Linked DNA regions of Homo sapiens. The protein of the gene in region 2 binds, or shares a complex with, the protein of the main gene of each other region. Each region holds a gene or a part of one and is shown on either strand. Other genes may lie near its edges. The genes, in order: SKP1, FBXL17, KEAP1 and BACH1. A codon is read from its position in the direction of its gene.

Region 1 (8,811 bases), about 26 Mb from region 2:
AATGGTGTGAACCCGGGAGGCGGAGCTTGCAGTGAGCCGAGATGGCGCCCCTACACTCTAGCCTGGGCGACAGAGCAAGAATCTGTCTCAAAAAAAAAAAACCCCTCTCTAGATTACTTACAATGCCGGATACAATGTAAATGCTATGCAAATAGTTTTTATACTGTATTGTTTAGGGAGTAATGACCAGGAAACAAGTCTACATGTTTAGTGCAAGACACAGCCATCCATTTTTTTTCCCAATATGTTTAATCTGTGGTTGGTTGAATCCACAGATGTAGAACTCATGGATATGGGGGCTGACTCTTATGTTTTGAGACATAGCCTGGTTGGTATAAGTATTATAATGGAATTAGGAAATAGAAACTTTCTTCTGGTTTTCTTAGATTTGGGAATGGATGATGAAGGAGATGATGACCCAGTTCCTCTACCAAATGTGAATGCAGCAATATTAAAAAAGGTAAGGTCTTTAAAGAGTTTAAGTTTATTCTGCTTAATATATAACACCAATTGATTAATACAAGTAATTCAACAATCTATGTTAGAATTTTATAATTTACTGCTTAAAATTACATTTAAATTTGAATGTTCTTAAACACTTACTTGAGTGATGTTTGTATGTTCTTAAAATATACAGAAAAAAGTTCTGTCTGCTTTCTTGCCACAGTTGACTATTGTCATTTATTGGGCATCTGTACTGTGTCTACCTATGCAAACACTTCCCTAGGAAGGATGATCTACATGTAGAATATCTGGATCGCAGGTTGGCTTATATACCTAAATTTTGATAGATACTGTTAAATAGTCTTCTGTAAAGATACCACTTCTAGAGCATGGTGGAATTGAATCGTGACTGTCTTTCTTAGATTTATAATTTTGAAACGGCTAAAGTCAAAGGAATATGTAACACTTTGTTCCCATTTCTGTCCTTATCTATTCCAGTCCCCTTTCAGGTAGCAATTTATCCTTTCAGTATTTTGTAATACAGGTATTAACAAGTAAGTATATTTTTTTCCCACATTCTTTTTTTTTTTTTTTTTTTTTTTTTTGAGACCAGAGTCTTGCTCTGTCGCCAGGTTGGAGGGTAGTGGTATGATCTCGGCTCACTGCAACCTCTGCCTCCTGGGTTCAGGTGATTCTCCTGCCTCAGCCTCCTGAGTAGCTGGGACTACAGGCACACGCCACCATGCCCAGCTAATTTTTGTATTTTTAGTAGAGACAGGGTTTCACCATGTTGGCCAGGATGGTTTTGATCTCTTGACCTCATGATCTGCCCACCTCAGCCTCGCAAAGTGCTGGGATCACAGGTGTGAGCCACCGCGCCCAGCATTCTCCCCCATTCTTAAGGTAGCAAACTATACATTTCTATGTTTTTTTTTTTCCATATAACAAAATGAAAGGTGATATGTCTATGTTAGTTAATATATAGCATCTTTTTTTTTTTTGAGATGGAGCCTCGCCCTGTTGCCCAGGCTGGAGTGCAGTGGTGTGATCTCAGCTCACTGCAGCCTCTGCCTTCCGGGTTCAAGTAATTTTCCCTGCCTCAGCCTCCCGAATAGCTAGGATTACAGATGCCCACCACCACACTGGCTAATTTTTATATTAGACAGGTTTTCACCATGTTGGCCAGGCTGGTCTCCAACTCCTGACCTCAGACGATCTCCCTGCCTTGGCCTCCCAAAGTGCTGGGATTACAGGTGGAGCCACCATGCCTGGCTAACCTGAATTTTTTTGTGTTTGTTTGTTTTTTTGATCTCACTCTGTTGCCCAGGCTGGAGAGCAGTGGCACAATCTCGGCTCACTGCAGCCTCCACTTTCCAGGTTCAAGCAATTCTCCTGCCTCAGCCTCCCAAGTAGCTGGGATTACAGGCACTCGCCACCACGCCTGGCTAATTTTTGTATTTTTTAGTAGAGATGGGGTTTCACCATGTTGGTCAGGCTGGTCTTGAATTCCTGACCTTGTGATCTGCCCACCTTGGCCTCCCAAAGTGCTGGGATTACAGGCATGAGCCACCGAGCCTGGCATTTTTTTTTTTTTTTTTTTGAGACAGACACTCTGTCGCCCAGGCTGGAGTGCAGTGGCACGATCTCAGCTCACTGCAACCTCTGCCTCTTGGGTTCAAGTGATTCTCCCGCCTCATCCTCTCGAGTAGCTGGGATTACAGACACCCGCTACCATGCCCAGCTAATTTTTTTATTTTTGTAGAGATGAGGGTTTCACCATGTTGGCCAGGCTGGTCTTGAACTCCTCACCTCAGGCGATCTGCCTGCTTTGGCCTCCCAAAGTGTGAATGTTTTTACATGTGTTACTGGCCATTTACATTTTCTGCATTGTCTGTTTTCATTTCTCTGTTTTCCTAATGGTCTTAGAAAAATAGTGATAAAATATACATAACATTGATCATTTTCACTTTTTGAACGTGCACCATTCAGTGACATTAATTACATTCACAGTGTTGTGCAGCTATCACCACTAAGCATTTTCAGAACTTTATCATCCCACACTGAAACTCTGTACCCATTAAACTGTAACTTCCAATTTCGGTACACCCTCCCCCCTCAAAAAAAAAATTGGTACACCCTCCCCCCTCAAAAAAAAAAATTACGCTAGGTAAACACTATTCTACTTTCTGTATCTGAATTTAGCTATCCTGGATACATAATATATGGAATCATACAATATTAGTCCTTTTGTATCTGGCTTATTTCACTTAGCATAATGTTTTCAAGGTTCATCCATGTTGTTGTCTAATGAGCTTAAAAAATTGTGGTAAAATACACATAACAAAATTTACCACCTTAACCATTTTTAAGTGACAATTCAGTGGTATTATCTAATAGGCTTTTTATAAGAACTCTTTAAAAGTTTCTACCAGTTTGCTTGTCTTACGTTAATTCATGTTACGATTTAGAGGCTTTATTTTATCTAGTTAGATCTCATTCTTTATGACTTCTGAATATGTCTTGCAATTAACGTATTCTATTTTATACTAATGAAAAATGTTTCTAAAAGGATCTTTGCTTGTAGTCGAATGCCTGGTACATTCAAATGCCATCCAAAAGCTGGGGGTATAGCAGTGAACCAAAGAGACAAAATCTCTGCCCTTATGGAGTTTATGGTCTGAAGGGGTGGGGAATATGCAACATTAGAAATACATCAAATGGAAAAACTATGGAGAATAAAGAAGGGAATGGGGAATTTAAAGGGGTGAGTAGGTGAACAGTTAGCTGTTTTTAAAATAAAGATGGTCAGGAGATGTCTTACTGAGAAGATAATCTTTTTTTTTTTTTTTTTTTTTTTTTTTTTCTTGAGATGGAGTTTTGCTCTTGTTGCCCAGGCTGGAGTACAGTGGCACAACTTTGGCTCACTGCAGCCTCTGCCTCCGGGCTTTAAGCAGTTCTCCTGCTTCAGCCTCAGTAGCTGGGATTACAGGCGCGCGCCACCACGCCCGGCTAATTTTTTGTATTTTGAGTAGAGATGGGGTTTCACCATGTTGGCCAGGCTGGTCTCGAACTCCGGACCTCAGGTGATCCGCCTGCCTCAGTCTCTCAAAGTGCTGGGATTACAGGCTTGAGTCACCATCCCTGGCCGAAGATAATCTTTTAAACAAAGACGTGAATATTTGGGGGAAAAGAATTCTGGGATTTGGGAGCAAGTACAGTGACCTTAAGACAAGAGCATGCCCTGCCTTTTTAGGAAAGGCAAGGAGTTTAGTGGAAGCTAGAGCAAGAAGTGAGTAGATAAGGTCAGAGTTAAAGGGTTGGGTGATGTAGGGCCACTTCTGAGAATGAGAAGTGCTTGGTTTTTGGGGTTTTTTTGTTTGTTTGGTTTGTTTGTTTGAGATAGGGCCTCACTGTGTTGCCTGGGCTGGAGTGCAGTGGTGCAGTCATGGGTCACTGCACCTTCTACCTCCCGGGTTCAGGTGATCTTCTCACCTCAGCCTCCCGAGTAGCTGGGAGTACAAGCACATGCCACCACACTTGGCAAATTTTTGTATTTTTTGTAGAGATGGAGTTTCACCATGTTGCCGAGGCTAGTCCGGAACTCCTGGGCTCAAGCGATCTGTCTCCTTTGGCCTCCCAGAGTGCTGGGATTATAGGTGTGGGCCACCACACCCAGCCGAGAAGTTTTTTTTTTTTTTAAGCCTGTTTGTATTGAATATATATCATATTTTGAAGAATAATTACATGATGCCAAAACTATGGAAGTACAATAAAATCTCCTTTCCCTGTCTCTTATCTGATTGGAAACTGCTCCCCCCACAAAGTAATGTGGCATTTTTTTGTTTTTCTTTTTTACTGGCACCACCCGTTGTGAACCTAGGCATTAGTTTCTTTATATATCCTTTTAAGAGTTTTTTATTTTTAAATTTTTATTTTTTGTTAGTAGTGATAGTGATTTTTTTTTTTTTTTTTTGACAGAATCGCACTCTCTTGCTCAGGCTGGAGTGCAGTGGCACGATCATGGCTCACTACAGCCTCAGCCTCCTGGGCTCAAGTGATTCTCTTGCCTCAGCCTTCTGAGTAGCTGGGACCATAGGTGTGCACCACCAGTCCCATCTCATTTTTGTATTTTTCATAGAGACAGGGTTTCACCATGTTACCCAGGCTGGTCTCAAACTTCTGGGCTCAAGTAAGTCACCCACCTTGGCCTCCCAAAGTGCTAGGATTACAGGTGTGAGCCACAGTGCCCAGCCTATTATTATTATCATCATTTTTTGTAGAGACGGGGTGTCTCTATATTGCCCAGGCTATTCTTGAACTTCCGGCCTTAAGCAGTCCTGCCTCAGCCTCCCAAAGTGCTGAGATTACAAGTATGAACCACTGTGCCCAGGTTTAGAGTTTAAAAAATGCCTGGATAAGCAAATATTGACGTTTTTAAATTTTCTTATATAGTTGGAATACTTCCTAAAAAGCTATTATTTATTTCATTAAAAACCCTTAGCTGGGTGCAGTGGCTCACGCCTGTAATCCCAGCACTTTGGGAAGCCAAGGGGGGTGGATCATCTGAGGTCAGGAGTTCGAGACCAGCCTGGCCAACTAAAAATAAAAAAAAATTAGCTGGGTGTTGTGGCAGGCACCTATAATCCCAGCTACTCAGGAGGCTGAGGCAGGAGAATCGCTTGAACCCAGGAGGTGGAGGTTGCAGTGAGCCAAGATAGCGCCATTGCACTCCAGCCTGGGCAACAAGAGTGAAACTCAGTCTCAAAATTAAAACGAAAACAAAAACCTTTCGCTGGCCAGGCACAGTGGCTCATAGCTGTAATCCCAACACTTTGGGAGGGCAAGGTGGGTGAATTGCTTGAGTTCAGGAGTTTGCAACATGATGAAACCTTATCTCTACAAAAACAAAATACAAAAATGAGCCAGGTGTGGTGGCATGCACCTGTAGTTGCAGCTACTTGGGAGGCTGAGGTGGGAGGATCGCTTAAGCACAGGAGGTCGAGTGAGCCATGATCGCGGCACTGCATTCCAGCCTGGGTGACACAGTGAGATCTTGTCTCAAAAACAAACAAACAACCCTTTGCTTGGCTTTTCCTTATTGAAATTGTTCTTTCTTTTTTTTTTTTTGGATCCTGGCAATGTTTCTTGGCTCTGCCATTTTCTCTCAGCATTGTTTACTCCTCCAACATTTTGCTATGAAAAAGTTTTAGCCATACAGAAAAATGGAAAGAATTACACAGTAGACAACCATGTAGCCACTGCCTAGATTCTACAACTGAAAACACTTTCAGTATTGATTTTGGTCTTTATGCTGGTATGTATAGTCTAAGTAATCAGCTTCCTGAAACTTTATGGAGTAATTATTCTCCTATTAAGGAAATTTTGGGGCTTTTCCTGCTTTGTTCCTACACCAAATAGTCTCACACATGTGTCTAGGGTATTTGGAATTTGCTGGTTACAATATATGTACATATTCAGCTTTTCTGAGGAGTGCTGGATTAGCTTTCAAAGGGGTTATACCAATTTATACTCTCTAGAAGAGTTTGTGTTTCCTTTCCACTATTGCCCAACAATTAGTATCAGTTTCTTGATTTTTTTTCAATCTAGAGAAGTATCTGTAGTGTTAGTTTTGCTTCTAGTAAAGTTGAGCGTTCCTTATGTTTGGCTATTCAGATTTCATTTATTGGCTGTACATATTAACCCATTTCTCTTTAATGATTTTTGAAAGATTTTATATTCTCTCAGCTAATCATTGTTGTACATATTGCAGGTATCTTCCAGTCATTGTCCTAACTTTTCTTTTTGCATAGAAGCTTTTTAATGTAGTCAAGTACAGTACTCTGTCTGCATGGCTTGCTTTTATCTAATAAGATCTTCTCCCTTCTAGGGTTATAATGATTCTTCAAGCTTCATTTTTGTTTTTCAAGCTTGGCTGTTAATGGCTCAAGTCAACCTCTAGCTAGTTATTATTCCAATATAGGGATAAGTTGTCCCAGCAGTGGAATGAGTACCTTGTGACAAAGTGCCACAGAGGAATGAACTTTTGTTGTTGTAGGTCATTCAGTGGTGCACCCACCACAAGGATGACCCTCCTCCTCCTGAAGATGATGAGAACAAAGAAAAGCGAACAGATGATATCCCTGTTTGGGACCAAGAATTCCTGAAAGTTGACCAAGGAACACTTTTTGAACTCATTCTGGTAAGTTTTTAATGTGTAAGATAGCTCTACTCTAGAGCCTTTAAACACTTCTTATAGATTTAAATTTGCTAACTTCATTGACACTGAATTTTAATACTCTCTAAATTCAAATGTAACGCCATATTTAAATCCACATATCAGTAACACACTAAATGTAAATGGTCTAAACACAGTTAAAAGGCAGAAATTACCAGATCAGAAAAGCAAGCTTAGCTGTGCTGTCTGTAAGAAACCCGCTTTAAATATATAGACAGAACTAGGTTTAAAGAATGGAAGAAGATACGGTACACTAACACGAATCAAAAGAAAGCTGGAGTGACTATATTAAAATAGGTTTGGAGGCAAAGAATATTACCAGGGTTAAAGAGGATTATTTCATACTGATAAGGGGATCAGTTTTTTAAAAAGACATAACAATTATAAATTTTTATCTGGCTAGAAGCAGAACTTCCAAGAAGTGAAACAAAACCCAATAGAACTCAAAGAAGTCCACAAAGTGACAATCATAGAGATTTCAGCACCTCTCTCAATTAATATAACTAGACAGAAATCAGGATAACTTGATATAACACTATTGACCAAATTGTCTTAATGGATATTTATAAAATATTATATATATATATATTTTTGAGACAGAGTTTCACTCTTGTCACACAGGCTGTGGTGCAGTGGCATGATTTTGGCTCACTGCAACCTCCACCTCCCAGGTTCAAGCAATTCTCCTGCCTCAGCCTCCTGAGTAGCTGAGATTACAGGCATGAGCCACCATGCTCAGCTAAGTTTTTGTATTTTTAGTAGAGATGGGGTTTCACCATGTTGGCCAGGATGGTCTTGAACTCCTGACCTCAGGTGATCCACCTACCTAGGCCTCCCAAAGTGTTGGGATTACAGGTGTGAGCCACCGCGCCTGGCCTAAAACATTATATGTAATGATAGCAGAATACATATTCTTTTCAAGTGTATATTACCAAATAGACCATGTTCTGGGCCATAAAACAAGTCTCAGCTGGGTGCGGTGGCTCACGCCTGTGATCCCAACACTTTGGGAGGGTGAGGCGGGTGGATCACTTGAGGCTAGGAGTTCAAGACCAGCCTGGCCAGCATGATGAAACCCCATCTCTACTAAAAATACGAAAATTAGGCCGGGCGCGGTGGCTCACGCCTATAATCCCAGCACTTTGGGAGGCCAAGGTGGGCGGATCACGAGGTCAGGAAATCGAGACCATCCTGGCTAACATGGTGAAACCCCGTCTCTACTGAAAATATAGAAAATTAGCCGGGTGGGGTGGCAGGAACCTGTAGTCTCAGCTACTCGGGAGGCCGAGGCAGGAGAATGGCATGAACCCGGGAGGTGGAGCTTGCAGTGAGCCGATATCGCACCACTGCCCTCCAGCCTGGGTGACAGAGCGAGACTTCGTCTCAAAAAAAAAAAAAAAAAATTAGCTGGGTGAGATGGCACCCACCTGTAATCCCAGCTACTTGGGAGACTGAAGCAAGAGAATTGGCTGAACCTAGGAGGTAGAGATTGCAGTGAGCCGAGATCACGCCACTGAATTCCAGCCTGGGTGACAGAGTGAGACGGTGTCTTAAAAAAAAAGTCTCCATTGTAAAAGGATTCAGGTCATACAAAGTATGTCTTCTGACTGCAATGGAATTAGAAATCACAAACAGAAAGGTATCTGGAAAAATCTGCAACTACTTTTAAACTAACACATTTGCAAGTAACCTATGGGTCAGAGAAGAAATAGAAAGTATTTTGAGCTGAGTGGAAGTAAAACACATGAAAAATCGGTGAGATGCAGCTAAAGAAGTACTTAGAGGGAAATTGATGGAATGAAATACCTATATTATTAGAAAAGAAGAAAAGTTTCAAATCGGTGATCTAAGCTTCCACCTTAAACTAGTAAAAGATGAAATTAACTACAAAGTAAACAGAAGAATGAGAATATTAAAGGGCAGAAATCAATGAAATAGAAAACAGGTAAACAATAAAGTCAATGAAACCAAAACCTGTTTTTTAAAATGAGATCAATATAGTGCTATAACTGCTTACGTTTGAACTCTTTAAGTGTGGACAAATATTTTTGCCAAGACCTGATGTGGTATTTGTGTGCATGTGTACACACATACACAACAGTAGTGGCCGTTATTTCACATTTGAGCTAGTA
Region 2 (4,375 bases):
CTTCAGCACCGTCCTGCAGGACTGCAAGAGGACCTTGGAGAGAGCCTATCAGATGGGCTGGACCCCCAACATGTCTGCCGCCTCCTCCTAGCGCTCCTGCCTCGCCTAGTCCACTGGGATCATTCAGCAGAGCAGAGGAGAATTGTACATTTGGGGAGCTGATCTCTCGGAAGGGTTTTAACTGTCACCTGTCTGTGTGTGTTCAAGTATGTGTATTTGTGTCTTGTTTGCATACTGCATACCAAAAGTGCAGTTGTCATTTGTTCCCAAGTGAGCTGGCTTTTTTTCTTAGAAATTAAAGATTATGAAAGCCACAAACTTTTTAGTTTTTAACTTCAAAGGCTTCTTTCTCTTTAAAAAAAAATTATTTTTAATATAGAGTCAAAAAATTGGATGTATTATTTTGAGCTTCTAATTGCTGCCACTTGGAGATGTCCAAGTAAGAAGGCCTTCTTTTTACATGGGATGAATTGTGCACTTCTACTGATGATGACTACAGCAGAAGTGATGTTATACGTACAGGCACTTACACTCTCTCACATATTCACACGTGTGCACATCTACACCAGGGCTCTGATCTACTCTAGATCGTTTCCTGACAGAGAAGCCTTCTTCCAGGCCACTAAGGTAGCATGTTATCCACTGTGGCACTGCCTAACTCCGTGTATCCTCGGGTGGCCAACTTGCTATCTGGTGGGTGACTTGGGGACTAGAAAGAATAAAGCCTTTTCTAAATTTGTTATATAGAGGCAACAGTCTGAACTCTCCTGGCCAGCTCACGAAAGTTAATTATACATTATTCTACAAATGCATTCTGTTGAGCACTAAATATTTTAGTTGGTTTTATGTTAACATTGTGTTAGCTTTTATTTCCTGGATAGTAACTGGTCAGGATATATTTTAATGATATTTGAAACTAATCTTAGCATTGAAGCCACCAATGTAATTAATGGTGTGCAGTTATTTTAAAAACTACAGATCATTTCATTATTTTCTTAATTTTGGTAATTATTAAAGTCTATTTCTGAGATACGAGAGGGTAGTCACATTAATAGAAGATTCATGAGTGAGATATAAGTAGACAATCTTTCTACTGTTGTTGCTCTTTTTGCTTTGCTTTGGGTTCTTGAACAGGTTTTTTGGATATATGCATGTTGTCATTTTGGACTAGTTCTCATGCTACTGCAAAGATCTATTGCTAGCTAATATATGAGTTAAGAAAGAAAATTAGAAAATCTGTTCATTGAAATTCTGTTTACACTTGTCAGAAATAAGCATTTCTTTGTTTAATTAAGGATTGCCAGCTTCAGTTAAGACAAGACCTATCAGTAAATGAATATATGTTTTGATTTAACACATCTTTACAATTAATTCATAATAGGGACTCAGGCTCAAATAACTGTTCCTGTGTCTAGATTTATAATGAGGACATCAGGGAGCCTTTTTAAGCTAAAGAGTGATTATCTTTCACAGTAGAACTAGAAACAAAACCCTAACTTGTGAAGTTGCTATTTATTTTTCCCTGAGTGAATATAACTGTTATTTGGTCTTTAACAGATATACTGAGGTTTGAGTTTCACTTTCTTTAAGTCTCACATTGCTAACATGACATTAGCTGTAAGAAACAAGATAGCTTTACATTTGAATGCCATTTACTGATTTCTAATGATTCTCTTTTTTTGTAAACAACTGTTTCCTTTGATTATGTCAACATGTTTCTGATGTGGCATTTTTGTTTTAATCCCAATCGGTTAGGAAAATCTAGTCAGTAAGCGCCATGAGTATTCTTCCCATAACTAAATGGGTTTCTAATTTAATTTGAAGGGAATAAAATTTGTGTAAGAAAAAAGCTGTTTAACATTAATAAACTATATTTCTTCTTACACATTGAACTGTATCATTTTCATATCCACTTCCCCACCACTGAAATATCTTATTTCACAATATTTTAACTGATTTTTAATCCAAAACTAATTTATAAGACAGTATGTATAGTAATAGTAGCTTGAGTGAATATGCAAAAGTTTAATTTTTATATATGTCATACTATATTTTAAATAGTTAAAAAAGACAAAAGAAGGGAGAGCCATCTATGATATAGATGGTACCATTTCAGTTCAAAGTTGTAATAACCTTTGGAGTGTTACAGTTTGGTTGTCAAATGGTTTCAGAATGTATAATTGATTTTTTTAAATGTTGCATTGTTTGAATCTAAAGTACAGCACTATAACATGCTTTAGCTTGGGGGGGTGGGGGTGGGGTGGGGACTTGCACTTATTCTCTAAAATGTTGACTAATCCAGAAAGCCTGATGCAACATAATCTGGAAAACTGCTTTGGTACATTTGTAGAAATCCGTAGAAATACCATATCCAGCCTCAAAGCATTAATCTCAAAAAAAAAAAAAAAAAAAAAAAAAAACAGCCAGAAAAAAGCATCACCTTGAGTGGTCCTGTGATGGTTGTTGAATGTGTTCTCATTAGATGCTTTGAAATGAGGCTTAAAATAATTTTTCTGGGCAATATAGAGTTTCTTTTTTTTGCTTAGAATGTCATAAATACATGTGAACACGTTTAATGCAGGGCTTTTTATTCTCTCCAAAATGTCAACAGTATTTTCAGAATAAAGACTATGAAATATATTGCTGTAGTGGAAAATTCTGGTCCTTTGTCTTTAATGTCTTTTTGAGTGGATAAAGAAAATTCACCCGGTTTGTAGTTTCTATATTTCCGTGAATCTTTGACCTTGCAGTGGGTTGCAATAAAAGAGAAACAAAACACTGTGTCTTTTGTTTTATTTTAGAGACAATAAATGACCTCCCCAATGCTGGTTGGGTATGATGCATGCAGTGGTCTGTGTATTTCTGTGTTTCACTACAGACTTATGTAGGTTTGACTAACCCAGAATAATAAACGAGACTGAGTTTAGGAGGTTCTAATTGGGCTGGTGATTATAGAGATAAGATTAAAATCTCAAGGATTTACATAAGTGTGTATTAGTCCATTCTCATGCTGCTAAAAGGGTATACCTGAGACTGGGTAATTTATAAAGGAAAGAGGTTTAATCGACTCACAGAAAACTTAAAATCGTGGCAGAAGGGAAAGCAAACAAGTCCTTTTTCACAAGGTGGCAGGAGAGTGAAGAATGAGAACCAAGCAAAGGGAGAAGCCCCTTGTAAAACCATCAGATATCATGAGAACTTCCTCACTATCACAAGAATGGCATGGGGGAAACCACCCCCATGATTCCATTGCCTCCCACTGGGTCCCTCCCACGACACGTGGGGATTATGGGAACTGCAGTTGAAGATGAGATTTGGATGAGGACACAGCCAAACCGTATCAAATGAGTTGTTAAAATCCCATTTCCTAAATAGTCATCATTTATATAGCCATATATTCTATTTTTCCAAAGTAAATAAATTCATAAAACATTTATTGAGTGACAAATACGTATAGGCACTGGAAATTTAAAGATAAATGAACTCACTCCCACTCTCAAGTTACTCACAGCCTAACAAGGGGACATTGTGGGGCACTAGCAATAACAGTGGAGTACAATAGATATAATGATGGGCATAATTATGGGGAGCGCATCTAGGGCCGAGCAGCAGCTTTGGGAAGGGAGAGCTCCACAGAGGAGGAGGATTTTCATGAAGGCTAGAGAAGTAGCGGGAATTTACCAGCTTTGCTTGGGGGAAGGAATGGAAGGCAACCTGGAAAATAGAAAAGTATGTGCGAAGGCATGAGGGAATGAGATAGCATGGAAAGAGCAGGGCCCTTGAGGTAACTGAGTTTAATAGGAAGGTATGTTATATAGAGGCAGCAGGTGGGAAAGGTTCCAGGAAGAAAACAAGGGCAAATCATAAACATTTTATGGCCTACTAAAGAGACTGGACTTGTGGGAAAAATCAGATCTGCTAGAAAAGCATTGTCCTAAATTATTCAAACAAGTAGAAATTTAAAATGCAGGACTTCCACTTCTAATGATATAATGGAAAGGAGATCCTGAAAGATTTTCTGCTATGTAACATCTAAAAATGTTCATTAAAATATTTTTTAAAAACCTTCTTAAGTGACCAATATACCTGCGAGAAAGCAAAAGAAAGCTCCTGTGGCCCGGGACAAAACGCGAACAGCAGTCTAGAACAGGGATCAGCAAAGAGTGGACCCTGGGTCAAACGTGGCCAGACACATATCTTTGTAATAAGGTTTTCTTGGGGCACAATCATACCCATTTGTTGTTGCATTCTCTATGGCTGATTTCATGCTACAACAGTAGAGTTGAGTGGTTTCACAAAGGCCATGTGATCCACAAAGTCAGAAAGATTTACTCTGGCATTTCACAGAGAAAATTTGCCAATCAACCTAGTCCAT
Region 3 (8,966 bases), on a different chromosome or scaffold from region 2:
CTGGTGCAACTCCACACAGCCAATCTGCTCAGCGAAGTTGGCGATGCCGATGGCATTGCTGGGGTCCAGCTGCTGCACCAGGAAGTCACTGCAGGCACGGACAACGCTGTCGATCTGGTACATGACAGCACCGTTCATGACGTGGAGGACACACTTCTCGCCCATGGAGATGGAGGCCGTGTAGGCGAATTCAATGAGGCGCTCCATGACCTTGGGGTGGATACCCTCAATGGACACCACCTCCATGCCCTGCTCCCGCAGCCCGTTGGTGAACATGGCCTTGAAGACAGGGCTGGATGAGGCCAGCACCACCTTGTGGGCCATGAACTGGGCGGCCGGTGCATCCTGGTACTTGACCTGCAGTGTGACGTCACACAGCTGCTGGCTGAGCCGCAGCTCGTTCATGATGCCAAAGGCCTGCTTGGTATGATCCTCCAGGGTGTAGCTGAAGGTGCGGTTGCCATGCTGGGAGGGCGTCACCTCCGCCTTGCACTCAGTGGAGGCGTACATCACCGCGTCCCCTGCCCCCTCAGGGCACTGTGACTGCAGGGGCAGGAATCGGCAGCAGGCCCCAGCCCCGCTAGGCCTGGGATCTGGCTGCATGGGGTTCCAGAAGATAAGCAACACCACCACCTCTGGCACTCAGGGACCTGGAGGGGAGAGAGCACAGGGCAGAGGGCAGGGGTTGGGACTGGGCCAGCACCTGCCGGGCCTCGTTTTGCAAGATAAAGCAATTCCTAGGTCAGTTTTCCTGCAAAGTAGGTGAAGCAGAATCCATTTGCAAACTTGCAAACTTCCCCGACCTGATCAACCTGATTGGCCCAAGAGCCCATCTTAAAACATACATGAAGTCATGTCTCTCCCCTGCTCTGGATCCTCCAATGCCTCCCACAGTACCTAGTAAAACTGAACTCCTCAACAGCCTGCAAAGCCCTACGCAATTAGCCCCTGCCACCTCTTCCCTTTGATCACTCTGCTTCAGCAATCTGGCGGCCTTTCCCTTTCTAGAGCATGTTGAGCTCATTCCTTCATTTGCCTCACCATTTACTGGGCACCTACTGTATGCCAGGCACTGATCTGGGTGCTGAAGACACAGCAGTGAGCAAAATACAAAAATCCTACCCTGCCAGAGCTGACAACTGCAGGGAGGAGCAATCATAAACTAAAATAAGCAAGACCTGGAAAAACAGCTTCATGAAGAAAATTACAACAGCATTGTGACAACGTGAGAATCGGGTGCAGTTTGTTTGCTTTTTTTTTTTTTTTTTTCAGATGGAGTCTCTCTGTCACCCAGGCTGGAGTGCAATGGCTCGATCTTGGCTCACTGCAACCTCCGCCTCCCGGGTTCAAGCGATCCTCCTGCCTCAGCCTCCCGAGTAGCTGGGACTACAGGCGTCCGCCACCACACCCGGCTAGTTTTTGTATTTTTAGCAGAGACTGGGTTTCGCCATGTTGGCCAGGCTGGTCTCAAACTCCTGACCTCAAGTGAGCCGCCCGCCTTGGCATCCCGAAGTGCTGGGATTACAGGCGTAAGCCACCATGCCTGACCCGGGGTGCAGTTTTTTAAAATCTGGCAGACCAAGCCTCTTTGAGAAGGTGAGGTTGGAGCTGAGACAAGGATGAAAATTATTATAAAGTGGGAGGCTGGGGAGTAGTTTTCCAGGCAGAGGAAACAGTAAGTGCAGTGGCTCAGAGGCTGAGACAGTCAATCTGGAGAATTGGGAAGGAGTGCAGTGAGAGCTAAGGACTTAAGGAAGGGTTTCATGGAAACCCCTGGATCCTGGAGGGCCAGGAGATGAGTTATGTGTTTTGTGTTTTGTTTTTCGAGACAGAGTCTCGCTCTGTTGCCCAGGCTGGAGTACAGTGGTGCGATCTTGGCTCACTGCAACCTCTGCCTCCCGAGTTCAAGATATTCTCGACCGGGCGTGGTGGCTCACGCCTGTAATCCCAGCACTTTGGGAGGCCGAGGCAGGCGGATCACAAGGTCAGAAGATCGAGACCATCCTGGCTAACATGGTGAAACCCCATCTCTACTAAAAATACAAAAAAATTAGCCGGGTGTGGCGGCGGGCGCCTGTAGTCCCAGCTACATGGGAGGCTGAGGCGGGAGAAAGGCGTGAACCCAGGAAGCAGAGCTTGCAGTGAGCCGAGATCGCACCACTGCATTCCAGCCTGGGTGACAGAACAAGACTCCATCTCAAATAAAACAAAAAAAAGATATTCTCATACTTCGGCCTCCTGAGTAGCTGGGATTACAGGCACCAGCCACCACGATGGGCTAATTTTTTGTATTTTTAGTAGAGATGGGATTTCACCATGTTGGCCAGGGTGGTCTCAACCTCCTGGCCTCAAGTGATCCCCCTCCTCGACCTCCCAAAATGCTGGGATTACAGGCATAGGCTGCTGTGCCCAGACGTGAGTTACGTTTCAAAAGGAGTGGGGGATCTCCAAGTGGCTCCCCACAAGTGGATCTGCAAGTTCTCACTCCCCTCTTTCTGGGACTCAACTCAAAGTCTCCTCTTCCCTGTTTTATTGTCATCACTGCGCTTGTCAGGAACTGAAATGACCTCCTTTGCTTGTCTGTTGATCGACTGTCTCTCGTCCCCGGCCCCAGCGCCTCAAATGGCAGGGAGACCTATGTAGGTCGGCGTCGGGCCAACCCTCTCCTGTGCCTCTCGCCTGGGGCCTGGCACTGCGCAGGGGTCAATAAACGGGTGGTTGGCTAACTGCCCTGCCACCGTGCCTGCCAGAGCGGCCTCCTCCACCCTCCCTGGGTGCCACTCGGCCCCCACTCTGGTGCCAAGGCCCTGGGTTTGCCTCTTGGTCTTTGGCCAATCGGTCAACAATGCCCCTTGGGCACCGGGCACTTCCCCCACCCTACAAAGCGGCAAGTGGGCGACTGCGCATGCCCCTCCTGAGCCTCCACCAGGCCCAGTGAGGCGAGGAAGTGACCCCACCGCGGCCTCTCGGCTGCCAACCCCAGAACGCAGATCGAGCCCCTCAACGCCTCGGAGCCCCCGGGCCTCCTTCTGCGCAGCGCCTCCTGGTTCTCTCGCTCGGTTTCCGCCGCTCCCGGGCCACCCCAAGAGTTGCGCCGTCCAACAAAAATATCCACCCAGGTCGCGCCCTCCTGGCCCTCCGAGTCCTGGCGGGGAACTCGGAGGCGCCCTGGGCCGTGGCGCCCGTTTTCCTGGTCTCCGGGCACGGCCGCAGGGGCGCTCGCGGCCCGCGATGCCCGCAGCCCGGGCACATCCCGCCTCACTCACCCCGCCATGGCCGCGCTCCGGCTCCGCCTCCACCGCCCGAGCCCCGGCGCCTCCATCGCTGCGCGTGGGGGAGGCGCGGAGCGCGCGCAGGTCACCATGACTAAGCAGAGCCGGGCGCCCGCCGTGTCACAATAAAAGTCCCCGGGCCCTGGCCTCAGGCGGTAGGGACCGCTGAGGGGCCGCTCCCCACCCCCGCCCACGCCTGCTGTCGCCCAGCTGCGCGGCCACCACGGCGCCCAGCATGGCGGCGGGGCGGGGGCACGCGACCCTGAGCGCGCTTAGCCGCGTGGTCCGAGTCGCGGGGAGTCTGAACCCCGAGTTCCAGGCCTGCGCGCCCCGGCCCGCACCAGGGGTGGGGTGGACACCCCTCCCCGTCGCTGCTGCCCAAGCGCTCACCTCAGCCCCCAGGTCGCCTCCGTAGGGGGTCCCTCGGGGTGGGGATGGCCGGGGCGCGCAGGGGCTCCGGGCACAGTGATGCCACCCGCGCACTGCGCTTCCGGGAAGCCGGGGGACCGCGACCCAGTCCAGGAGATTCCTGCCTTACCTTGGCTGTAGGGGACCCGCGGGCGCCTCCGCCGTCGGGGGGCCTCGGCTCCAGGGCTGCGTGGCCTGCGGGGTCTTGGTTGTCGGTTGGGGAGCGGCCTCGGGACGCCCGAAAAGGAGGCGGGGAGAGGGCGGAAAGGGCGCGGCGGGAAAGGAGCGGCGATTCTCCCGCCCTTCCCGCAGGTGCCCGGCGCCCGTCGGCGAGGAGTGGGGCATCGGGCGGGGGCGCACAGCCAGGCCCCCCTTCTCACTGTCCCTTCCATCTCCCGATTTCGTTGCTGGATGTCTCCTCGCGGGGCTGCGCGCCACCATCTGCTATTCTCCTTTTAACAACGCACAGCGCCGGCCTCGTGGTCCGGCGGCCGCAGGATCTAGGGAAAATTATCTACCTCGCTAGGTTTTCTTTTCTTTTCTTTTCTTTCTTTCTTTCTTTTTTTTTTTCCTTTAGAGACAAGGTCTCGCTCTGATCTGCACGCCCAGGCTGGAGTGCAGTGGCGCAATCGCGGCTCACTGCAGCCTTGAGCTCCTGGCCTCAAGCGATCCTCCCACCTCAGCCTCCTGAGTAGCTGGGACCACAGACAGGCGCCACCACACCCGGCTAATTTTTAGTTTTTGTTTGTTTGTTTGTTTTTCTGTAGAGATGGGGTCTCGCAATGTTGCCCAGGCTGGTCTTGAACACCTGGGTTTAAGAGATCCTGACTCCATTGGCCTCCCAAAGTTCTGGGATTATAGGTGTGAGGCGCTGTGCCCAGGCCTCAGGTTTTCCTTGTCTTTTTTTTTTTTTTTTTTTTTTAATTGAGACAGAGTCTCTCACTGTCACCTGGGCTGGAGTGCAGTAGCTCGATCTTGGCTCACTGCAACCTCCGCCTCCCGGGTTCAAAAAATTCTGCCTCAGCCTCCCGAGTAGCTGGGATTACAGGCGCCCGCCATCATACCCAGCTAATTTTTTGTATTTTTAGTACAGATGGGGTTTCACCATGTTGGCCAGGATGGTCTCAAACCCCTGACCTCATGATCCGCCCGCCTCGGCCTCCCAAAGTGTTGGGATTACAGGCGTGAGCCACCGCGCCCGGCCTTCCTTGTCTTTATTTTTGATTTACTTCCTATCAAGAGGCGTGTGGCACCCGTCTTTGGGGGGTTCAAACCCTGGATCTGCCTCTTACCAGCTCAGTGCCCGTGGGCGCTTACTTAGTTCTCTATGGTTCAGTTTCCTCTCTATAAAAAGTAATAATATAATAGCACCTACCTACCAGATTATCATTAAGACTAAATGCGGGGCCGGGCGCGGTGACTCACACCTGTAATCCCAGCATTTTGGGAGGCCGAGGCAGGCGGATCACGAGGTCGGGAGATCGAGACCATCCTGGCTAACATGATAAAACCCCGTCTCTACTAAAAATACAAAAAATTAGCCGGGCGTGGTGGCGGGCGCCTGTAGTCCCAGGTACACAGGAGGCTGAGGCAGGAGAATGGCGTGAACCCGGGAGGCGGAGCGTGCAGTGAGCCAAGATCACCGCACTGCACTCCAGCCTGCGCCACAGAGCGAGGCTCTGACTCAAAAAAATAAATAAGTAAATAAAAAATAAAAATATTAAATGCGAATGCTGGCTCCCAAGAGACAGAAACCATTGCTATTTTTCATGACTGGGGATACTGATTTGTCATGCACACCGTTTATCATGTAACGTTAACTTTTAAATAAATGTATGTAAGTTTATTTTAAAGAATTCATCTAGGCTGGGTGCGGTGGCTCACATCTGTAATCCCAGCACTTTGGGAGCCGAGGTGGGTGGATCACGAGATCAGGAGTTCAAGACCAGCCTGGCCAACATGGTGAAACCCCCATCTCTACTAAAAATACAAAAATTAACCGGGCGTGGTGGCGGGCGCCTGTAATCCCCAGCTACTCGGGAGGCTGAGGCAGAGAATTGCTTGAACCCGGGAGGCAGAGGTTGCAGTGAGCAGAGATCGCGCCACCACACTCCAGCCTGTGCAACAGAGTGAGACTCTGTCTCAAAAAAAAAAAAAAAAAAAGAAAAAAAAAGAATTCATCTAAATTTCATCCAAATTATAATTATTTTTAAAAGATAGAGAGGCCAGGCGCAGTGGCTCATGCTTGTAATCCTAGCACTTTGGTAGGCCAAGACGGGTGGATCACCTGAGGTTAGGAGTTCGAGACCGGCCTGACCAATATGGTGAGACCGCCGTCTCTACTAAATACAAAAAATTAACCGGGTGTGGTGGTGGGTAAGTGAAGGTTGCAGTGAGCCGAAATCCTGCCATTGCACTCCAGCCTGAGCAACAGCGCGAGACTACGTCTCGAAAGGAAAAGAAAAAAAAAAAAGATAGATGGGATTTCGCCATGTAAGTGAATAATAAATGGAAACTCTAGGCCCCTGGAGCCTCCAGGGTGAATTTGAAAGATTGAACGTCCTGGCTCAGGGTCTGGAAGGAATCACGTGTAGGGCTACGTTGGAGTTACCCCGCTACCCCAAATCCTTGTTGCGTGTAGATGCAGTTCCAGACAGCTCCTCAGGGGGGCGGCCTAGATAGTCCGTGAACACGCTGAGTGGCCGAGGTTGTAACCAGCGCCTTCCTGGCACGTTGCAGAAAACAACCTCTCTAATATCTCTCAAAATCAAACCTACAGGTCCAGTGAGCCAGGTGCTTGTAGAGATTTATCCAAGGTGCACTCGCACACATACAGGAGGAAGCATGTGCACACATTCATTGCATTATAATGCATATCATGGCAAAAGGACTGGATCCCATTCACATGTCCCTCTGTAGAGCCCTGGCTTAATCAGTGGTGGCACATCCTTGCTAAGAAATACTATGCAGCCAGTTAAAAGGAGCAGTACATTTACTGTATGGATATGTACCTAGATCTTCTATTTTTTCTTTTCTCTTTTTCTTTTTCGATTTTCATTTATTTATTTATTTATTTATTTATTTATTTTTGAGACGGAGTCTCGCACTGTCACCCGGGTTGGTGTGCAGTGGTGTGATCTTGGCTTGCTGCAACCTCTGCATCCCGGGTTCAAGCGATTCTTCTACCTCAGCCTCCCAAGTAGCTAGGATTACAGGTGCCTGCCACCATACCCAGCTAATTTTTTGTATTTTTAGTACAGACAGCGTTTCATCATGTTGGTCAGGCTGGTCTTGAACTCCTGACCTCGTGATCCTCCCGCCTCGTCTTCCCAAAGTGCTGGGATTACCGACGTGAGCCACTGCACCCAGACTCTTTTTTTATTTTATTTATTTATTTTTCTTTTTTTGAGACAAGGTCTTGCTCTGTCACCCAGGCTGGAGTGCGGTGGCACAATCATAGCTCACTTCAGCCTTGACCTCCTGAGATCAAGTGATCCTGCTGCCCCAGCCTCCCAAGTAGCTGGGACTACAGTCACTCACTACCACACCCAGCTAACTTCCCCCCACCCTTTTTTTCTTTCTTTTGTAGAGCTGGGGCTTCACCATGTTGCCCAGGCTGATCTCGAACTCCTGGGCTCGACGGATCCTCCCTACTTGGTCTCCCAGAGTTCTGGGATTACAGGTGTAAGCCACCACGCCCCACCTCTTTTTTTTTTTTTTTTTTTTTAACAGGGTCTTGCTGTCACCCAGGATGGCGTGCAGCAGTGCAATCATGGCTCACTGCAGCCTCGAACTCCTGGCTCAAGCCATCCTCCTGCCTCAGCCTCCCAAGTAGCTGGGACCACAGGTGTATGCCACCACACTTGGCTAAGTTATTTCTTTTTTGTAGAGATGGTGTCTCACTATGTTGCCCAGGTTGGTCTCAAACTCCTGGGCTCAAGTGATCCTCCTGCTTCAGCCCTGCAAAGTGCTGAGATTACAGGCATAAGTCACTGTACCTGACCAGGCCTCTATTTTTTTAATGTAAAAAAAGAGCCAGGCCCAGTGGCTTACGCCTGTCATCCCAGCACTTTGGGGGGCCGAGGCGGGCAGATCACCTGAGGTCAGGTGTTCGAGACCAGCCTGACCAACACAGTGAAACCTCGTCTCTACTAAAAATACAAAATAAGCCAGGTGTAGTGGCGCATACCTGTAATCCCAGCTACTCAGGAGGCTGAGGCAGGAGAATCACTTGAACCCCGGAGGTGGAGGTTGTGGTGAGCTGAGATCGTGCCACTGCACTCCAGCCTGTGCAACAAGAGCAAAACTGCATCTCAAAAAAAGAAGTGCTATGGACCAAATTATGCACCCGTACCCCCTTTTCGTGTGTTGCAGCCCTAACCCTCAATGGAATGGTATTTGGAGATGGGGCCTTTGGGAAGCGATTAGGTCTAGATGAGGTCATGAAGGTGGGAACCTCATGATGGGATTAGTGTCTTTATAGGAAGAGCACACCAGAAAGTGTTCTCTCTTTCTTTTTTCTTTTCTTTTTTTTTTTTTTTTTTTTTTTTGAGACAGGCTGGAATGCAGTGGTGCCATCTCCACTCACTACAACCTCCGCCTTACAGGTTCAAGCAATTCTCCTGCCTCAGCCTCCTGAGTAGCTGGAGTTACAGATGTGTGCCACCACACCCAGCTGATTTTTGTATTTTTAGTAGAGATGGGGTTTCACCATGTTGGCCAGGCTGATCTTGAACTCCTGGCCTCAGTTGATCCACCTGCCTCAGTCTCCCAAAGTGTTGGGATTATAGTCATGAGCTACCTCGCCCGACCTGCTCTCTGTTTCTTTCCCCAACATGTGGGAACACAGTGAGAAAGCGGCTGTCTGCAAGCTCAGAAGAGAGTCCTCACTAGAACACAACCATGCTGACATTCTCTTTTTTTGAGACCATGTCTCGCCCTGTCGCCCAGGCTGGAGTGCAGTGGAGTGATCTCCGCTCACTGCAACCCCTGACTCCTGGGTTCAAGCGATTCTTCTGCCCCAGCCTCCGGAGTAGCTGGGATTACATGCGCATGCCGCCACACCCAGGTAATTTTTTGTATCTTTAGTAGCAACGGGGTTTCACCATGTTGGCCATGCTGGTCTCAGATTCCTGACCTCGTGATCCACCTGCTTCGGCCTCAGTGCTGAGATTACAGGCGCGAGCCACTGCTCCTGGCCTTTTTTTTTTTTTTTTTTTTTTTTTTTTTCCGAGACAGAGTCTCGCTCTGTAATCCAGGCTGAAGTGCAATGTCGCGATCTCAGCT
Region 4 (8,811 bases), on a different chromosome or scaffold from region 2:
CCGTCTATCCATCTTGGTCCTTTTTTAACCCCACTTGGTTGATCTTGGTCTCTCACCCCTTGGTGTCACTGTTGTTCCTGTCCTGCTGTCTTGCTGGCTGTCATTCCTCACTCTGGCTCTCTTCCTCTCCTTTTATTTTCTGAATTGTTTGAAAGCTACCATATTATGACACTTCATCCTTAAATGTTTAAACATGCATCTTCTAAAAAGAGGCATTCTTAGATATGACTAATACCTTTATTATGCCTGAGAATTTCAACACATCCTAAATATTATATCTAGTTTTTATTCAAATTACTCTGATTTTCCCATCTTTCATAGATGCTTTTTTTTCAAACGAGGATACAGTCATCGTATAATGCATTTGATTAAACCTGTTTAGTCTCTTAATCTAGAACAAGTACTCTCATTGTTTTAATGACAATAACTTTTTGAAGTATCCAGGCTGGATTTCTCATAAATGTCTTACTTTAAGTTATTTGTCTGATTGCTTCCCCATGGCTTTAAGTCATTTCTCCATCCCTTTACTTCCCGTAAACTGGAAATGTTTGAGTTGAGGAGACTGAGTTTAAACATTCACTGGTGTTGTCCTTTATATTGTGTCGCCTAGGGAGGCAGGAGGTCCAGTGTCAGTATTGTCGTACCTGGGTAGCTGGGAAGTGCCAGATTGCTCCATTTTCAAAGTAATATTTTTTCAACCTGTGTTGCTTAGTTATCTATGATGTGTTACTTGGGCACTTTATAATTATCCCGTTCCCCAATACTCCTGCATCCTTTAGAATATGTTGATGACCTTCACTGTGATTACCATGATTACAAAATCATGATTTTTCTAAATCTTTCATTCTATTTACATTATTTTAGTTGGTATTCCTGATTAAAAAGGATTGTTCTTCCTTTCTTTCTCTTTTATTTTTTTATTTTTTTTTGAAACAGAGTCTCACTCTGTTGCCTAGGCTGGAGTGTGGAGTGCAGTGGCGTGATCTCAGCTCACTGCAACCTCTACCTCCCAGGTTCATGTGATTCTCCTGCCTCAGCCTCCCGAATAGCTAGGACTACAGGTGCCCACCACCACACCTAGCTAATTTTTGTATTTTTAGAAGTGATGGGTTTTCATCGTGTTGGCCAGCCTGGTCTCGAACACCTGACTTCAAGTGATCTGCTTTCCTCAGCCTCCCAAAGTGCTGGGATTACAGACATGAGCCACCATGCCTGGCCTTTTCTTGTTTTCTCTTTTCCCTCCCTCCCACTCTTTGGAATCACAGTGGACTCATGGATTAATTTTTTCTGATTCAATTTGTTAGGATAAGTAATAGTCATTATTCTTTTTGATGTTGACATTTTTCAAATTTGGCCTGGGAGAGCCCGTTCAAGCCAGCTCCTGTCCTGTTGACATAACCATCTAGCACTTGCCATGGTCTCACTTTTTAACCTCTATTGTTTCAAGATTTGGAATCACCCATTTCTTTAAAACTCCTGGTTTCTTCTAGCAGTTATATTGGACTTTGGAAAGCCTACCTGCTGCTGGAGTATTATTCCTTCTGGGCCTTTTTCAGTGGACAGAGCTAGGAAATATATGCATCTGTGTATAAAATAAAGTTCATTATATCATGAATTCATATATATCAGGCTTCAGTAAATGAAAGTAAAAAGTACATTAGAAATCCTGAGTTTATGTAGTATTTCCAGTCCAAATTTAGCAGTATAGAGCTTTTGTCTTCACTTCTGTGTTTATGTTTAATCTCTCATCATTTACAGGAAAAATTTTGGCTCCAATTACATTAGTGTATTGTTTCCTTTATAATATACAGTAAGTTCTCACTTAACATGAAATGATGGATAATGAAACCAGTTTTTTTCCTCATCAACTTTATAATGAAAGGATGTTGTAAAAATGAGAACACTTGGACACAGGGTGGGGAACATCACACACCGGGGCCTGTCGTCGGGTGGGGGAGTGGGGAGGGATAGCATTAGGAGATATACCTAATGTGCCGGGTGCGGTGGCTCAGGAGTTCGAGGCTAGCCTGGCCAACATGGTGGTGCAAACCTGTAATCCCAGCTACTCGGGAGGCTGAGGCAGGAGAATCGCTTGAACCTGGGAGGTGGAGGTTGCGGTGAGCTGAGATCATGCCATTGCACTCCAGCCTGGGCTACAAGAGCGAAACTCCGTCTTAAAACAAAAACAAAAACAAAAACAAAAACAAAAAAAACGAGTTAATGGGTGCAGCACACTAACATGGCACATGTATACATATGTAACAAACCTGCACGTTGTGCACATGTACCCTAGAACTTAAAGTATAATATAAATAAACAATAAAATAAAAAAGAAAGGATGTGGAACAAAATGTTTATTGAGGACCTGGTGTGCGTTGTTTCTCTTAAAGTCAGTTTCCAAAAACCTGTCGATGATTTTAAGTGAGGGCACACTGTATAAAAAGTAAGAAAATTAGACAATCAGTATTACTATTAACAGTAAACAAATTGAGCAGAATTTGAGATTTATTTGCTTTTTTATGCTTAAATATTTCCCAGTGTGAAGCTTTAAAGTTATTTGAAATATTTGTGTTACCAATTTGGCATACAATTAATTTTTTTTTCTATTTATATTACTGGGATTTACTCTACATTTTTTGAGACAGGGTTTCACTCTGTCACCCAGGCTAGAGTGCAGTGGCACAGTCATGACTCACTGCAGCCTTGACTTCTTGGGATCAAGCAAATCCTCTCATATCAGCCTTCTGAGTAGCCAGGACTACAGGTGCGCACCACCATGCCCGGGTAATTTTTTTGTGAAGGTGAGGTTTCGCTGTGTTGCCCAGGCTCCTCTCAAAACTCCTGGGCTCAATCGATCCTCCTGCCTTGGCCTCCCAAAGTGCTGAGATTTTAGGCATGAGCCACCATGCCTGGCCTACATTTTTAATTTGTTTTATTTTGAATGTAAAACGTTTATATGGTTCAAACATTAAAACTATATTTTAAAAAATATATACTCCAAATCTTGATCTCATCTTCTCCTTATACCCTATTCATAGCTACTTCCTATAGGTAACCATTTTCATTAGTTTCTGGATTTTTTTTTCCCTGTGTTTCTTTTCTAAAAATGTGTTAACATTTTATGTCTACTCTTATTATCCATCCTGCTGCATGGAAGTATTTTATATACATTTTTCTGTACTTTTTAAACTTAAGAATTGATTTATAGGAAATATTTTTTCTTAGTTCAGAGAGGTTGTCATTCGTTTTCCAGCTCCATAGTACTCAGTAGTGACTGTAATACAGTTCAAACCAGTCTTCTGTGGGTGGACAGTTGGGATCCTGCAGTGAATAACTGTATACTGTTTCATGTTTAAGGAGCTGTGTCTCTAGGACACATTCCTAGAAGTGGGATTGTTGGATCAAGGGTAAATACATACATAATTTTATTAGATATTAACAGATTCCCCTCCTTAGGAATTGTCATATTTGGCCTTCCAGCAGCAGTATATGTGTGTGTGTCTGTCCACACCCTCAGTCAAGATTTGTTGTCAGCTTTTGGGTTTTTTCCAGTCTGATAGTGAGATACCATGATATCTCGTGGTAGCTTTTATTTTTATCTTATGAGTGAAAATGAGCATTTTTGCTTATATTTCTCAGTGCCATTTGCAGATTTCTCTGAACTGCCGTTCAGAGGTTTTACTTACTAAGGAACTATTAGTGACCATTTTCTAACAGTGAGTACTCTTTACCCTATCATAAAATTGTCACTTGTACTTTTGGTGCCAAATTCTTCTATATCTTTATTGGGTGAGTTATATTTATGATCTTTAAAAAAATTATATTTGAATAAATATTGTGCACTAGCTATTCAAAATAAGGATTTAGATGCAAAGGTTTTTTTTTTTTTTTTTTTTTGAGACAGAGTCTTGCTCTGTCACCCAGGCTGGAGTGCAGCGGCACAATCTCGGCTCACCGCAACCTCCGTCTCCCAGGCTCAAGTGATTCCCCTGCCTCAGCCTGCCCTTTTAGCTAGGTTTACAGGTGTGTGCCACCATGCCCAGCTAATTTTTTTGTATTTTTATTAGAGACAGGGTTTCACCATGTTGGCTAAGCTGGTCTCGAACTCCTGACCTCACATGACCCGCCCACCTCAGCCTCCCAAAGTGCTGGGATTACAGGCGTGAGCCACTGTGCCCAGCCTGTAAAGATTTTTTGTTGGTATAAAATCCAGAATGGTACCAGAATGCCAATTTTATTCCTTTTTAAGAAATAGCTCTAATTAAAGGTGCAGCACTTCAAACGTGATTTATACAGTTGTTTTTATAGGAAAATGGAAATATATTGTAGGGATAGGTAGCAGGACACTAATAGTGAGTCCCACTCATGACTGTAAGTAGTGACTTTGGGAGGTATCTTAAATACTGATGTCATTAAGTAATTAACTTGAATTACTTGTATTTTACTTTTAGTTATTAAGCTGACTGCTATTATAGTAAATATGTGTCTTAAACTTAGAGTGAAATGGAAACTGCTTAGAAGCTTAGCTGTGTAGGAGTTAAAGTGCAGGGGAACAGATGGGAACATTTAATTTATAGAAATAATTCTGGTGGAGTTCTAGGGCTGTGCCTATTTGTTTTAGTTGTTGTGAAGAAGCAAGCCATCTTGTATACTTAAAGAATGATGTCATCCCTAATTTAGTGGGGTGGGAGGAGTGAGAGTATTTAAAGATCATGTGGATATTAAGATACAGAAGTCATAAAATATTTGTAATCTTCATAGTATCTGTAGGTTAAGTAGTGGTTCTAATTTCTGGGAGGAAGCTCAAGTACTCCTTATTTTGTTGAACCATATTTAATTTAAAAGACCAACCAGCAGTTGAAAATTTTCTATTGCTGTTTAGAATAGATTCATCCCAACTTTGGTAGAGGAGTCCATGGCTGAATATTGCCATGAGTGAAGAAAGATTCTTTCTCACTTTCTTCTGGAAGCTTTGTTTTCATCCTCCTTTGGATTGGCTTCTGAGAGACCATAAAAAGAAATGGGTGTTGATTGCATTTAATGGTTCCTACTGTGAACAAGCAGTAGGTACCGTTCTTGCCCTTTCAGTATCTGCAGACTCATTTTATCAGAAGAGTGCAACTGATAAACTTTGCATAAGAGAAAATGTACTGGCCAAACATTGATTTTGCTTACATACACATACTTAACACGCACATTCTTGACCTACATCTATTTAAAAAAAAAAAAAAAAAGAACTTGTATATAAAAATCTGAACAGATTGGAGAATACTTTGCCATATAAAAATTTAGTATTTTGTATTTATTGTATATTTTCTCAAAATATTACAAGGCTTTAAAATATTTTAGAAATAACAATAATTGGATTCATACATAATTTTATAGTAATACTTTTGTATAAAACCATAACAATACTTTTGTATAAAGCAAAATTCGTTTTACCCTTTTAGTGACTTTTATGTCATAAAAGACTAAAGGATGGCACTTATAGATTAGCACTATGAACTAACTTGTCTCAAGGTTAACTGGCAGCCTCAACTCTCCAGAACCTGTCAATGAACAGAAAGCAAACAGAACAACACTGACTTGTTGAGAGTTGTGATAAATTTCATAAGAAAAACGTTTGACTTTCTAGCAAGTGTTTATTTACTCTTTTCTTATAAATACCTTGATTATTTGGTTTCCTGGCTCATAATAGATTAGAAGCAATAAGATGTTAGAACAAGAAGGATGAAATGGGATGATAATAGAAAAGACATGCTGTCAGCAGTGATAAGTGACATGGACAGGAAGGCAGGAACCAGAAAAACTTTTGAAAAATTCTGTGGTAGACTTTCTTATAGGGGTAATATCTTAAAATTATAATAATAACAAAAATGGTAATTAGCAAGCACAAAATTACCCCCCCGAATTCTTCACACTTTAGTAACTCACCCACCGGCTGTCTCTAGGCATCTTAAATTCAGTCCCATCCCTTCAGTGGGTTTGATGTTGCTTAAATCAAGAGAGGTGTTGTGTGGATTACATAGCTGAGATTGCATGTTGGAAAACATTTAGCACAATATCTGTCAGAGAATCTGCTCAACAAATGCTGGTCATTAGTTGAATCTTGCAATGCTTTGAGTCTCAGTAATTAAGTTATGCTAACTGTACTTTTACTTTTTTTCTTGTATCCCATCCAAAATGCCATCCATACCTGTTATGTACAGTCTGTAAATCCAGAAAGCTCCAAAAACCGTATGTTTGTCACAAACTCTTTTGACCGAAAAACTGCCCCAAATTGACATTAGACTACATAGTCTTTATCCTACTTTCTTCATTATTTGCTATTTTAATGTTTACCTAGAAATGTAAAGATAGTTGATAGGGAAGTGCTGCCCCAGGCCTGCTAGAGAAATTATGTGTGCACCCATACTGTCTTTCCAAAACCTGAAAAATGCTTTGTGCCAAAATACATCTGCCCCAAGAGTTTTGGGTGGGAGATTCTGGGCCTTTAGTATTTAATGTATAATTGAATGGAATTGAAAGGATAAACTCCATGTGATCTTACTTGATGAGAAGCCCCTGTATATTATTTGATCGCCTTGGAAATGTTGATTGAGCTAATAAACACAAGCCATTGTGTTCTCTTTCCCCACTTCACAGCAAAGTGAAAAGGAGAGCTTGTTGAAGGAAAGAGATCACATTTTGTCAACTCTGGGTGAGACAAAGCAGAACCTAACTGGACTTTGCCAGAAAGTTTGTAAAGAAGCAGCTCTGAGTCAAGAACAAATACAGATACTCGCCAAGTACTCAGCTGCAGATTGCCCACTTTCATTTTTAATTTCTGAAAAAGATAAAAGTACTCCTGATGGTGAACTGGCGTTACCATCAATTTTCAGTTTATCTGACCGGCCTCCAGCAGTGCTGCCTCCCTGTGCCAGAGGAAACAGTGAGCCTGGCTACGCGCGAGGGCAGGAGTCCCAGCAGATGTCCACAGCCACCTCTGAGCAAGCTGGGCCTGCGGAACAGTGTCGTCAGAGTGGTGGGATCTCAGATTTCTGTCAGCAGATGACTGATAAATGTACTACTGATGAGTAAACTTGCATTCACTTCCTTCAAACCATCTAATTTTCTCCTGAAGTTTTGGCAGCGTCTTGAAAGCCTAATATGACCATCTGTTGCTCAACAATACTGTTTTTTTCCTTTAGTAGTTTACCATAAGGGAATTTCCTTTAAGTCAACCATGATTTCTCCTTGATTTCTACAAGAGACAAAGAAATGATTTTGCCTCCTGGATATCAGAAAAATCCATGTGAAAATGTAGTAAACCTTTAAAACTCATGTTTTAAAGAATAATAACTCTAGTAATAACTCTTCCTGCTATTCAGAATAAGTAGGAGAATGAAAACTGCAGCATATCAGACAGCAATTTAACAGCTTGAAACATCTACAGATAGTTCCTACTAAAAGAAGTGGCCTGCAGAAGTTTAATAATTTGACTTTTTTCTAATATTTTAGTTTGAAAGAAAATTTCTTCCCAAGCAATGCTAATAGAGTTCTATTCTTAGAAGCAGGGTGTCAGCTACTGGGAATATTTTTGTAGAGCTGCATTGTGAAAAAAAGATGGTCTTACCTGAATCTTAGGGCTTTGTTCTTCGGCTCCTAAAATCAGGCTTTAAGCTACATTGGGAAGATTTAGTAAATAGGCAAGTGGTTGGCCTAAGACGGGGGCTGCTTCTCCTCTTCAGTATGGACTCTAGAAAGTCTGGCTACATGAATAGATTTAAGTGTCACTTTCCCTCCCTGCCCCCCGCTTCAGTCTCTACCATATCTGGTCCCATCATGGACTTCCTATTTCCTGGCATTTTTGTCCCTTTGGAAGAAGAAATAGGACTCAGAATACAGTGGCATGAGTGATTACACTGGCAGCATTATCTCAGGCTCCCTAGAATCTGGAGAGCTTACCAACATGTAAAGCTGTTCATTTTTCCACCGTGGGTCACCAATGCCAGAAAACCAGACATCACGGGGAAAGAATGTTGCTTACTTTTTACCAGGAGTGCAGTTCATTTTTTTCACCCTGTTTTTGAAGTCGTATTATTCACTTGTAAAAATGATTGTAACAGATAAAAAATGTATCTGCAGCAACTCTGCAGGTTTGTGAAATAGGATGAAACTCAATCTTTTTCTATTGTGGGTTTGCATTTGAAAAGCAGGTTGAATCCTTGCTCTCTTCTCCAAATTTGGTGTGGTATAAAGACACACAAATCATTTTAACTTGGACATTTAAAGATCAGTCTTAGTGTTTGTTCAGTCCTGTTACAAAATAGATAACTGAGCACCTATCGCATAACATTTTGCGGTGGCTTTTAGCCATGCTGGGGTTAGATGTGTTTGAGAGTCAAATGAAAGCTATGGATCTTCTCAGCAATTAAAAAAAATGCATATATTCACATTCACAGAAACATTGGCAGAACCCAGTTTTAATGGTACAGAGGAGTAGTTTATAGTGTTGATTTCACCAAAATCAGAGGGCTGAAAGAGACACTTCTATAGACTGCATCCTGAGCCTAGTGCAGGGCTTGTCTAGCTAATGTGGGCAGCCACCACCCACTGTGTATGAACAAGTCTGAAGCAAGTTGGCCTTGCCCTTGAGAGTATATGGGGACCAGTCTTCATGTCTTGGAGTAATTTGTCAAATGTTACCCTTTTTGATCAGGGTGTAGGGGGAGGATATTGCTAGTATATTTTCAGTGGTTTGTATGTTCTCTCTGTCACTGACTTATTTGTAAGAGAAAATTAGTTGGACTTGTTTATTTTCTAGTAGCT

Evidence for each region.
Region 1: the proteins of FBXL17 (region 2) and SKP1 are in contact, whole or in part, in a crystal structure (PDB 6W66), measured with the Homo sapiens proteins. Residues at the interface, in NP_001156787.2 of Homo sapiens: Pro319, Asp320, Ile321, Asn322, Leu324, Pro325, Ile328, Lys331, Ile332, Phe333, Ser334, Asn335, Leu336, Leu338, Asp339, Glu340, Cys342, Leu343, Ser344, Ser346, Leu347, Val348, Cys349, Lys350, Trp352, Arg353, Gln364, Arg370, Gln371, Val373; in NP_733779.1 of Homo sapiens: Lys78 (codon at 6,560), Glu79 (codon at 6,563), Lys80 (codon at 6,566), Arg81 (codon at 6,569), Gln97 (codon at 6,617), Gly98 (codon at 6,620), Phe101 (codon at 6,629), Ile104 (codon at 6,638), Leu105 (codon at 6,641), Asn108, Leu116, Asp117, Cys120, Lys121, Val123, Ala124, Ile127, Lys128, Gly129, Lys130, Thr131, Pro132, Ile135, Arg136, Phe139, Asn140, Ile141, Lys142, Asn143, Asp144.
Region 3: the proteins of FBXL17 (region 2) and KEAP1 are in contact, whole or in part, in a crystal structure (PDB 6W66), measured with the Homo sapiens proteins. Residues at the interface, in NP_001156787.2 of Homo sapiens: Asp395, Arg397, Arg421, Lys423, Asn447, Gln473, Tyr475, Met524, Arg548, Asn572, Cys574, Leu575, Trp577, Glu596, Tyr598, Val600, Ser601, Asp623, Trp626, Lys628, Tyr647, Met651, Arg652, Val676, Leu677, Asp679, Cys680, Thr683, Leu684, Arg686; in NP_036421.2 of Homo sapiens: His59, Thr60, Ala63, Ile66, Met67, Glu69, Leu70, Gln75, Leu76, Gln82, Lys84, Ala90, His96, Val98, Ala101, Ser102, Ser103, Ser104, Pro105, Val106, Lys108, Ala109, Met110, Thr112, Asn113, Gly114, Val122, Ser124, Glu126, Gln163.
Region 4: the proteins of FBXL17 (region 2) and BACH1 are in contact, whole or in part, in a cryo-EM structure (PDB 8UAH), measured with the Homo sapiens proteins. Residues at the interface, in NP_001156787.2 of Homo sapiens: Asp395, Arg421, Asn447, Gln473, Gln498, Glu499, Met524, Arg548, Cys574, Leu575, Tyr598, Val600, Ser601, Asp623, Trp626, Met651, Arg652, Val676, Gln678, Asp679, Cys680, Arg682, Thr683, Glu685, Gln689, Trp692; in NP_001177.1 of Homo sapiens: Val20, Leu21, Ser23, Leu24, Gln27, Val32, Leu33, Asp35, Phe39, His48, Arg49, Ser50, Val51, Ala53, Ala54, Cys55, Ser56, Ser57, His60, Ser61, Arg62, Val64, Asn72, Thr74, Pro76, His116, Asn117.

The regions. Positions count from the first base shown.
Region 1 is NC_000005.10:134,158,819-134,167,629, reverse strand, and holds part of SKP1 (S-phase kinase-associated protein 1), read left to right. Parts: intron 1-386; coding exon 387-460; intron 461-6,499; coding exon 6,500-6,643; intron 6,644-8,811. UniProt on the Homo sapiens protein: Essential component of the SCF (SKP1-CUL1-F-box protein) ubiquitin ligase complex, which mediates the ubiquitination of proteins involved in cell cycle progression, signal transduction and transcription.
Region 2 is NC_000005.10:107,857,436-107,861,810, reverse strand, and holds the end of FBXL17 (F-box/LRR-repeat protein 17), read left to right. Parts: coding exon 1-91; 3' UTR 92-2,776; downstream 2,777-4,375. UniProt on the Homo sapiens protein: Substrate-recognition component of the SCF(FBXL17) E3 ubiquitin ligase complex, a key component of a quality control pathway required to ensure functional dimerization of BTB domain-containing proteins (dimerization quality control, DQC).
Region 3 is NC_000019.10:10,499,431-10,508,396, forward strand, and holds the start of KEAP1 (kelch-like ECH-associated protein 1), read right to left. Parts: upstream 3,927-8,966; 5' UTR 3,811-3,926; intron 3,342-3,810; exon of another isoform or gene 3,267-3,341; intron 651-3,266; 5' UTR 604-650; coding exon 1-603. UniProt on the Homo sapiens protein: Substrate-specific adapter of a BCR (BTB-CUL3-RBX1) E3 ubiquitin ligase complex that regulates the response to oxidative stress by targeting NFE2L2/NRF2 for ubiquitination.
Region 4 is NC_000021.9:29,335,754-29,344,564, forward strand, and holds part of BACH1 (transcription regulator protein BACH1), read left to right. Parts: intron 1-6,645; coding exon 6,646-7,080; 3' UTR 7,081-8,811. UniProt on the Homo sapiens protein: Transcriptional regulator that acts as a repressor or activator, depending on the context. Binds to NF-E2 DNA binding sites. Plays important roles in coordinating transcription activation and repression by MAFK.